Homo sapiens: one gene and its partner. The protein of the gene in region 1 interacts with the protein of each later gene in a pairwise test. Each region holds a gene or a part of one and is shown on either strand. Other genes may lie near its edges.

The links.
Region 2: the proteins of DNAAF2 (region 1) and UBE3D interact in binary tests that used the Homo sapiens proteins (3 or more experiments, as listed by UniProt).

Annotation. Positions count from the first base shown.
Region 1 is NC_000014.9:49,633,734-49,637,650, forward strand, and holds the start of DNAAF2 (protein kintoun), read right to left. Parts: upstream 1,512-3,917; 5' UTR 1,417-1,511; coding exon 1-1,416. UniProt on the Homo sapiens protein: Required for cytoplasmic pre-assembly of axonemal dyneins, thereby playing a central role in motility in cilia and flagella.
Region 2 is NC_000006.12:83,023,951-83,027,867, reverse strand, and holds part of UBE3D (E3 ubiquitin-protein ligase E3D), read left to right. Parts: intron 1-1,988; exon of another isoform or gene 1,989-2,110; intron 2,111-3,829; coding exon 3,830-3,899; intron 3,900-3,917. UniProt on the Homo sapiens protein: E3 ubiquitin-protein ligase which accepts ubiquitin from specific E2 ubiquitin-conjugating enzymes, and transfers it to substrates, generally promoting their degradation by the proteasome.

The DNA of each region.
Region 1 (3,917 bases):
GGAGGACAAACAAGGGGAGCCTCCGCCACCAGGTGAGTTTTCTCCTCCAGGAGATGGCTCCTCCACGCTGCCCGGCGGTGACCCCGCGTGCCTGCTCAAGTCCTGCTCCCCCGGCTTGGGGACACGCTCCTCTCCAGCTGCGGCCGGCGGAGGCGCCACCTCCGGGTCGCCCAGGGTGGTGACCCCGGAGCCCGCAGCCCCAGCCACGCAGGTATCGTGGCCTCCGTCCTCCGCGCGACTCCTCGCGGGTCCCGCCTCCCCCTCGCGAGCGGAAGCGCAGGCCTGGCCGTCAGTTCCGGACCGGTCCGCGGACTCTTCCGGCGCGGCGGCGGCGACGGCGACAGCGGGCTCCCGGCGCGCGGCCGGCAGCACCACTGGCAGCGTAACCACCAGCTGCCGCCGGGCCTTGTTGAATTGTGCCTTGCCGCGGCCATCGTCCACTGGGTACGGGAGCGAGAGCCGCAGCCGGTAGTCAGGTTTCCTCGAGTCGAGGCACAGCAGCTTTCTCGTTACCTCCAGCGCCGCCTGCTCGGCCGAGCGCAACAGCGGCAGTTCGATGGTGATCACCAGCTCATGGGGCACGGGGCTCGGGGCTGAGTCCCTGGAGCAGCGGTAATCCTGGAGGTCCACGTGGTGGCGCTGCACCACGCTGTAGCGAGGCTCGGTGGGGGCGGGCTGCAAGGCCGCTTCCGGAGGGGAGGGCGCCCGGGGCCCGGGGGCTGCCGGGTACTGGTAAGGGTAGGGGAAGTCCGGGAGAGGACCCTTCGGCTCCCCGTCAGGCCTTGCGGGGATGACCCCGGGCAGGGGCGTGCGCAGCACCGCAGCCTCTGGGGTCCCCTTATACTTGGCCTTCAGGGTCTTGGCATTCCTGCGGTCCAGCTTCACGCCGAACTGCTTCTCGACGGCCTCCAGGGCCGTGGCGTCCAGCATCTGGCGGAAGCCCTCGTGCCGCCGGGCCAGCGCAAGCGCGTCTGGATGGAAGACCACGTCGTAGACCATGTAGCGGCTGCTGCTGCGCCCCGCGTACTCGCGGCCGGGCGCCAGGCTGTAGGGCAGGGACCAGTGGCTGCCAGGAGCTGCGCCCCGGTCGCCACCGGAGCCGGGCCGGCTGCTGGGCGCGCCCACCAACGCGTTGCTGCAGACATTCACAAAGCAGCGCCGCGCCCCGTCCAGGCTGGTGCGCAGCACATGGCCGGGCTCCGGGTGCACGAACCGCACTTCCACCCCGCGCTCACGCTCTAGCGCGGTGATCTCCGCCTCGTAGCGCCGCCGGTTCTCCGGGTCGGTGAGCTCCTCGGCGTACTGGGAGAACATTCGCCGGAACTCCGGGTCCTGGAAGGCGGAGGTGAGCCGCTGGACCTCCTCTCCGCTCAGGTCCAAGTCCTCCAGCGACGAGGAGGCCGCCGCTTTGGCCATACTGTCCTGTGGCTCCTCGCCCTCGGGCCAAAGGCGATCAGTCTGACACTGGGTTGGGGGATCCGCCTCAGAGTTTCTGGGCAGCGTACAGTGACGCGGTGGAGGTCGGTAACGGCTGGAAAATTGAGCCTTGAGCAGCGCGTGCTTGTTGTCATAGTTACACCACTAACATTCGGGAGGAGGGGTAGAGATCATGGTGGAATAGGCCGGGCGCGGTGGCTCAGGCCTGTAATCCCAGCACTTTGGGAAGCCTAGGCGGGCGGATCACGAGGTCAGGAGATCGAGACCATCCTGGCTAACACGGTGAAACCCCGTCTCTACTAAAAATACAAAAAATTAGCCGGGCATGGTGGCGGGTGCCTGTAGTCCCAGCTACTCGGAAGGCTGAGGCAGTAGAATGGGGTGAAACCCAGGAGGCAGAGCTCTTGCGGTGAGCCAAGATCGCGCCACTGCACTCCGGCCTGGGCGACAGAGCAAGTCTCTCAAGGAAATCATGGTGGAATAGTGGAAATGCCAGAAATAGCCCTCTTAGATTCTTCAAACCAACCCACCACCGTACTTTGTTTTGTTTTGTTTTGTTTTTCTTTTTTTGAGACAGAGTCTCGCTCTGTCACCCAGGCTGGAGTGCAGTGGCGCAGTTTCGGCTCACTGCAAGCTCCACCTCCCAGGTTCACGCCACTCTCCTGCCTCAGCCTCCCGAGCAGCTGGGACTACAGGCGCCTGCCACTACGCCCAGCTAATGTTTTGTATTTTTACTAGAGACAGGGTTTCACCGTGTTAGCCAGGATGGTCTCGATCTCCTGACTTCGTGATCCGCCCGCCTCGGCCTCCCAGAGTGCTGGGATTATAGGATTACAGGCATGAGCCACCACACCAGGTCCAAAACCTTTTTTTTTTTTTTTTTTTTTTTGAGGCTGTCTCACTCTGTCACCCAGGCTGGAGTGCAGTGGTGCAGTCTTGGCTCACTGCAACCTCCGCCTCCCGGGTTCAGGCAATTCTCCCTGCCTCAGCCTCCCAGGTAGCTGGGATTACAGTGACTCACCACCACGTCCGGCTAAGTTTTGTATTTTTAGTAGGGATGGGATTTCACCATGTTGGCCAGGCTGGTCTCCCACTCTTGACCTCATGTGATCTGCCCACCTCAGCCTCCCAAAGTGCTGGGATTACAGGCATGAGCCACCGCGCCCGGCCTAAAACCTTTCTAATGTGCATATTTTTTTGACCCAAATGCCCTTAGAGTATTTGACACAATACTCTTAGAACATTCTCAAGGTGACATCATTTATGATTCTAAAGGTTTGAGAAGAATCTACAAATTCAACAATGGAACTGATTGAGCAGGTTTTGGTAGAGCCACGCAACAGAGTTTTGTGCAACCATTCAAAATGATCATATGGAAGTATATTTATTTACTGGAGTAATTATTTATTCATTGGTAATTGGTCAATTCAGTGATCATTTTTCTATTCTCAGCAACATTTAACACAGTTGATGTTGGCATTACCTCAGTGACAAGACACTTTCCAGATTTCTCTTCTGTCTCATCACTCTCATAGTTTTGCTCTGTAGGTATCTACTTCTTTTCAACTTCTACATGGAAATGCCCCAAAACTGGGACCCAATCTCTTACCCATCTATACTCTCCTTCAGAAATATATTTACACTCACAAATACTTGTCTTAGACTCAGATTTTACACTCCTATATCCAGCTGCACGTTTGAGGTGTCCATTTGAGTGATTAATGCATAAGCTACTCAGGCTTGAAATGACCAAGATCAGAACTCCTGAATCCTCTTTTCCCAAACCACTGCCTTATCTTATGGTCTCTTGGAAGCATTCAAAGCAGTTGACTGCCCCTTCGAAACACATTTTTCTCATGTTTTGCAGAACTCCAAGCTCTCCCATTTTCCTCCTTTATGCTCCTGCCAGTTCTGCAAATGTGGGAGTTGCCCAAGGCTTTGTTCATCAGCCCTCTTACCTAATCACATTTCTTCCAAGATGTCTTATCCAAGCCCATAGTTTTAAATGCCATCTGTGTTCAAATTAGTCCTTTCAACAGATATTTATTGTGTGCTTATTGCACTTATTATATAGGTAATTAACAAAGATGTGAAGCAGTTGCATTGCTTTTTTTTTTGAGACAGAGTCTTGCTCTGTCGCCTAGACTGGGGTGCTTTGGCGCGATCTTGGCTCACTGCAACCTCCGCCTCCTGGGTTCAAACAATTCTCCTGCCTCAGCCTCCCAAGTAGCTGGGATTGCAGGCACCTACCACTGCGCCCAGCTAATTTTTGTATTTTTTAGTAGAGATGGGATTTCACCATGTTGGTCAGGCTGGTCTCCAACTCCTGAGCTCAGGTGATCCGCCCACCTCGGCTTCCCAAAGTGCTGGGATTACAGGCACAAGCCACCATGCCCAGCCAGCAATTGCACTTTCATATCCTGGGAGTATATATTGGAACACTGTTAACATAAGGCTTACGACAATGAAATTCTCCCAGA
Region 2 (3,917 bases), on another chromosome or scaffold:
GGAGCATGGGCAATATTTGAAGAGATAATTGTTGAGAATTTTACAAAAGTGATGAAGAATAGCAATCTATAGATTCAAGGGACCCAGTGAATTCCAATTCGGCAAAGCCCTAGCAAGAAAAATAAAAAGAAATCCATACTTAGACACATGCGAGTAATACTGTAGAATAAAAAGTGAAGATAATCTTAAATGCAGCTAAAGAAAAAATGACAGAGTGCCTTCAAAGGAACAGCAGTAATGGAAGTCTGAAGACGGTAGAACAATATTGCCAATGTGTGCAAATAACTGTTGATCCTAGGACTTAATCTCAAGTGAAAATTTCCTTCAAGAATTAAGGCTAAGATAAATATGTTTTCTGACAAACACAAACTAGGTTAATCTAGGTTAATTCAATACTAGTGGTTTCTTTTTTTTTTTTTTTTTTTTTTTTTTTGAGACGGAGTCTCGCTCTGTCGCCAGGCTGGAGCACAGTGGTGCGGTCTTGGCTCACTGCAACCTCCGCCTCCTGGGTTCAAGCGATTCTCCTGCCTCAGCCTTCCAAGTAGCTGGGATTACACACATGCACCTCCACGCCCGGCTAATTTTTGTATTTTTAGTAGAGATGGGGTTTTACCATGTTGGCCAGGCTGGTCTTGAACTCCTGACCTTGTGATCCTCCCGCCTCAGCCTCCCAAAGTGCTGGGATTACAGGCGTGAGCCACTGCGCCCAGCCCATAGTGGTTTCTTATGAAAAGAAATTGTACCTGTACTCAGGTAGAAGAAAATGATCCCACATAGAAGATCTAAGTTCAATAAGGGTTGATAAAATCGTGAATATTCACATAACACTTAAATGAATATTAACTATAAAACAATAGAAATAATACTTGTGGGATTAAAATAATATAATTAAATTTTAGATTAACAACACATGAAATAAAAAGGGTCACTTCTGCTTTGGGAGGCGGAGATGAGAGGATCCCTTGAGACCGGCCTAGGCAACATAGTGAAACCTGGTCTCTACAAAAAATTAACTGGGCATAGTGGTGCATGCCTGTAGTGCTAGCTACTCAGGAGGCTGATGCGGAAGGATCACTTAAGCCCAGGGGTTCGAGGTACAGTGAGCTGTGATCACACCACTGCACCCTAATTGGGCAACAGGGCAAGACCCTGTCTTAAATAAGTAAATAAATAAATACATAGGCATTTCATAAAGTTAAAAAGGTTTAGTTTAGTCCTGCGTGTAATAACGATTTCAAAATAGTAAATATTGACACATCTTCAATGATAAATGGGTAAATCTGTCATGGCTGTCTATATATTAATCTATGAAACCATTTATTTTTTTTACCTTTCTGTGTGTAATATTGAGCAATTACACACTTTTTCAAAAAATAACTTTGTCTTATTAAAAGTTGTTTGACAACACTATTTTATTTTATTTTTTAAGAGATGGGATCTTACTCTGTCTCTCAGGCTGGAGCGCAGTAGTTCATTGAAGCCTCAGACTTCTGGGCTCAAACAGTCCTCTTGCCTCAGCCTCCCGAGTAGCTGGAACTACAGGCACATGCCACTCTGCCTGGCTAATTTTTAAAAGAATTTTTTGTAGAGACAGGCTGTCACTTTGTTGTCCAGAATGGTCTCAAACTCCTGGGCTTGAAGTGATCGTCCTGCCTTGGCCTTCCAAAGTGCTGGGATTAAGTATGAGCCACTGTACCTGGGCAACACCACCATTTTTAATGACAGCCTCATTTTTAATTATTTCTGGTTTGAATTTGACCTATTTAAAATTTGAAACATGCATGCAGTTATGTTGCCTGAATATTTAACCCATCCTCAATTTTTAGACATTTGTTTTCAGTATTTTTCTATTGATATTATGAGTATCACTATAGATAAGTGTTTTCATATACCAGTGAGTATTTTTTTGAAATAAATTCTTATATGTTTAATTATGGTGCCACAATACATACACAATTTTTCTTTTTTTTTTTTTTTTTTTTTTTAAGATGGAGTCACGTTCTGTCGCCCAGGCTGGAGTGCAGTGGCACGATCTCGGCTCACTGCAACATCTGCCTCCTGGTTTCAAGCAATTATCCTGCCTCACCCTCCCGAGTAGCTGGGACTACAGGTGGGAGTCACTGCGCCCAGCTAATTTTTGTATTTTTAGTAGAGACAGGGTTTCACCATGTTGGCCAGGCTGGTCTCAAACGCCTGACCCCAGGTGATCTGCTCGCCTCAGCCTCCCAAAGTGCTGGGATTACAGGCGTGAGTCACTGCACCCAGCCCTACATATACAATTTTAAGGCCTTTGCCAAGTGGCTTTCCGGAAGTCTGTCATTTTCTGTTCTCACAGCAGTGTGTGAATAAGCATATCCATCTATATAAATAAGCGTATCCAGCAGTACACCTTATCATTTTAAAATATTTTGTTTGATGCAAAAAAAAAAAATCTTATTTTGATGTACATTTTCTTCATCGTTAGTGAGATTAAACTTTTTCTTAGATTTTTTTAGAACTCCAAGATGATTGTGTTTACATTTATGTCTATTAAATTTCTATTTAAATTTTTCTGTAAGCAATCAGATAACCAGATTTAGTGAGAATTGTATATCAATAGAGTCATTGAGATTCTGGGTAGATTCTAATGTGAGGTTCACCGCATCTGTGTTTTGGGATGCTGTGATTAAAAACCCCTTTTCAGGTAGGAGCACTGGAACATCAAAGGCAAGGTAGGTGTGGTTAGTGTAATGGACAGAAAGCAAGGCAACAATTGGAATAATCTGAGTTATTCAGTTATATGATGTTTGCTAGTTGATCATGGTGTTGTCTAGAAGTGAATTAGATAGCAAGCCTGCTAAAATCTTACTTGATTTGTATAAGAAAGTTCTATGTCAAGTGAATAAAAGTCGAGCTTGAATCATAAAAACAGAGAGTCCTGGCCCCTCAATCAATTCTCACACTTGAGCCTTTGTAGGCCCAGGACCCCTTGAATGAAGGAGAGGACAGATGCCCTCAACGAAAAACGATGCTACCTGAAATTTATACCGTTAATCTTTCTCCCAGGCTTCCACAAAGGGAACCATGGCCTTTCTCAGGGTAACAGTTCCCCATGCGCACTGGGGAAAAGGAAATAATCACACCTTTTAGGGACTGCTGGACACTGGTTCTAAATGAACACCAATTCTAGAAGACCCAAAACATCACTGTGGCCTTCCAATTAGAGTAGGGGATGGGGTCAGGTGATCAATAGAGTTTTAACTCAGGTCCATCTCACGGTGGGTCCAGTGGATCCCTGAATGCTTCCTGTGATTATTCCCGAATTCCAGAGTGCTTAACTCAAATTAACACACTTAGCAGCTGGCAGAATCCCCACGTTAGTTCCCCAAAGTGTGTATTGAGGCTATTATGGTAGAAAAGACCAAGTGGAAGCCATTAGAACTGCCTTTATCTGGGAAAATAGTACATCAAAACCAAAAACAAACCAGAAGTCTTTTTCATTGACTTACAGGTTTGTAGCTATTCTGTAGAATTGAGGAAACCCAGTGACTAATTTCTATCTAAGTGCACTATGCCTGTGATGTGACTAACTTTTATAATCTTCCATATGTGTAAGCAGAGTCTCTGGGCATTATTTTCTAAAAAGACACAGAAGCTTCAGAACTATCTCCTTGTAGTGACCAATGCTTTGTCTTCTGAAACTAAGTAGTTTTGGGAAAATGTTTACAGAATATTAATTTTACCAGTATATTTAATATTTAGTTTGGAATATCCTAATTTGGAGTCAACTTGCCCACAATAAAATTATTAGTGTATTGGGGAGAGTCTTAATTTTCTTTTTTGTTTCTAGAAACCACCAAGTTTTATATGACAGAGATAATTATTCAGTCATCTGAGAGGAGTTTTCCTATCATACCAAGGTACAAATAGCAAATTAC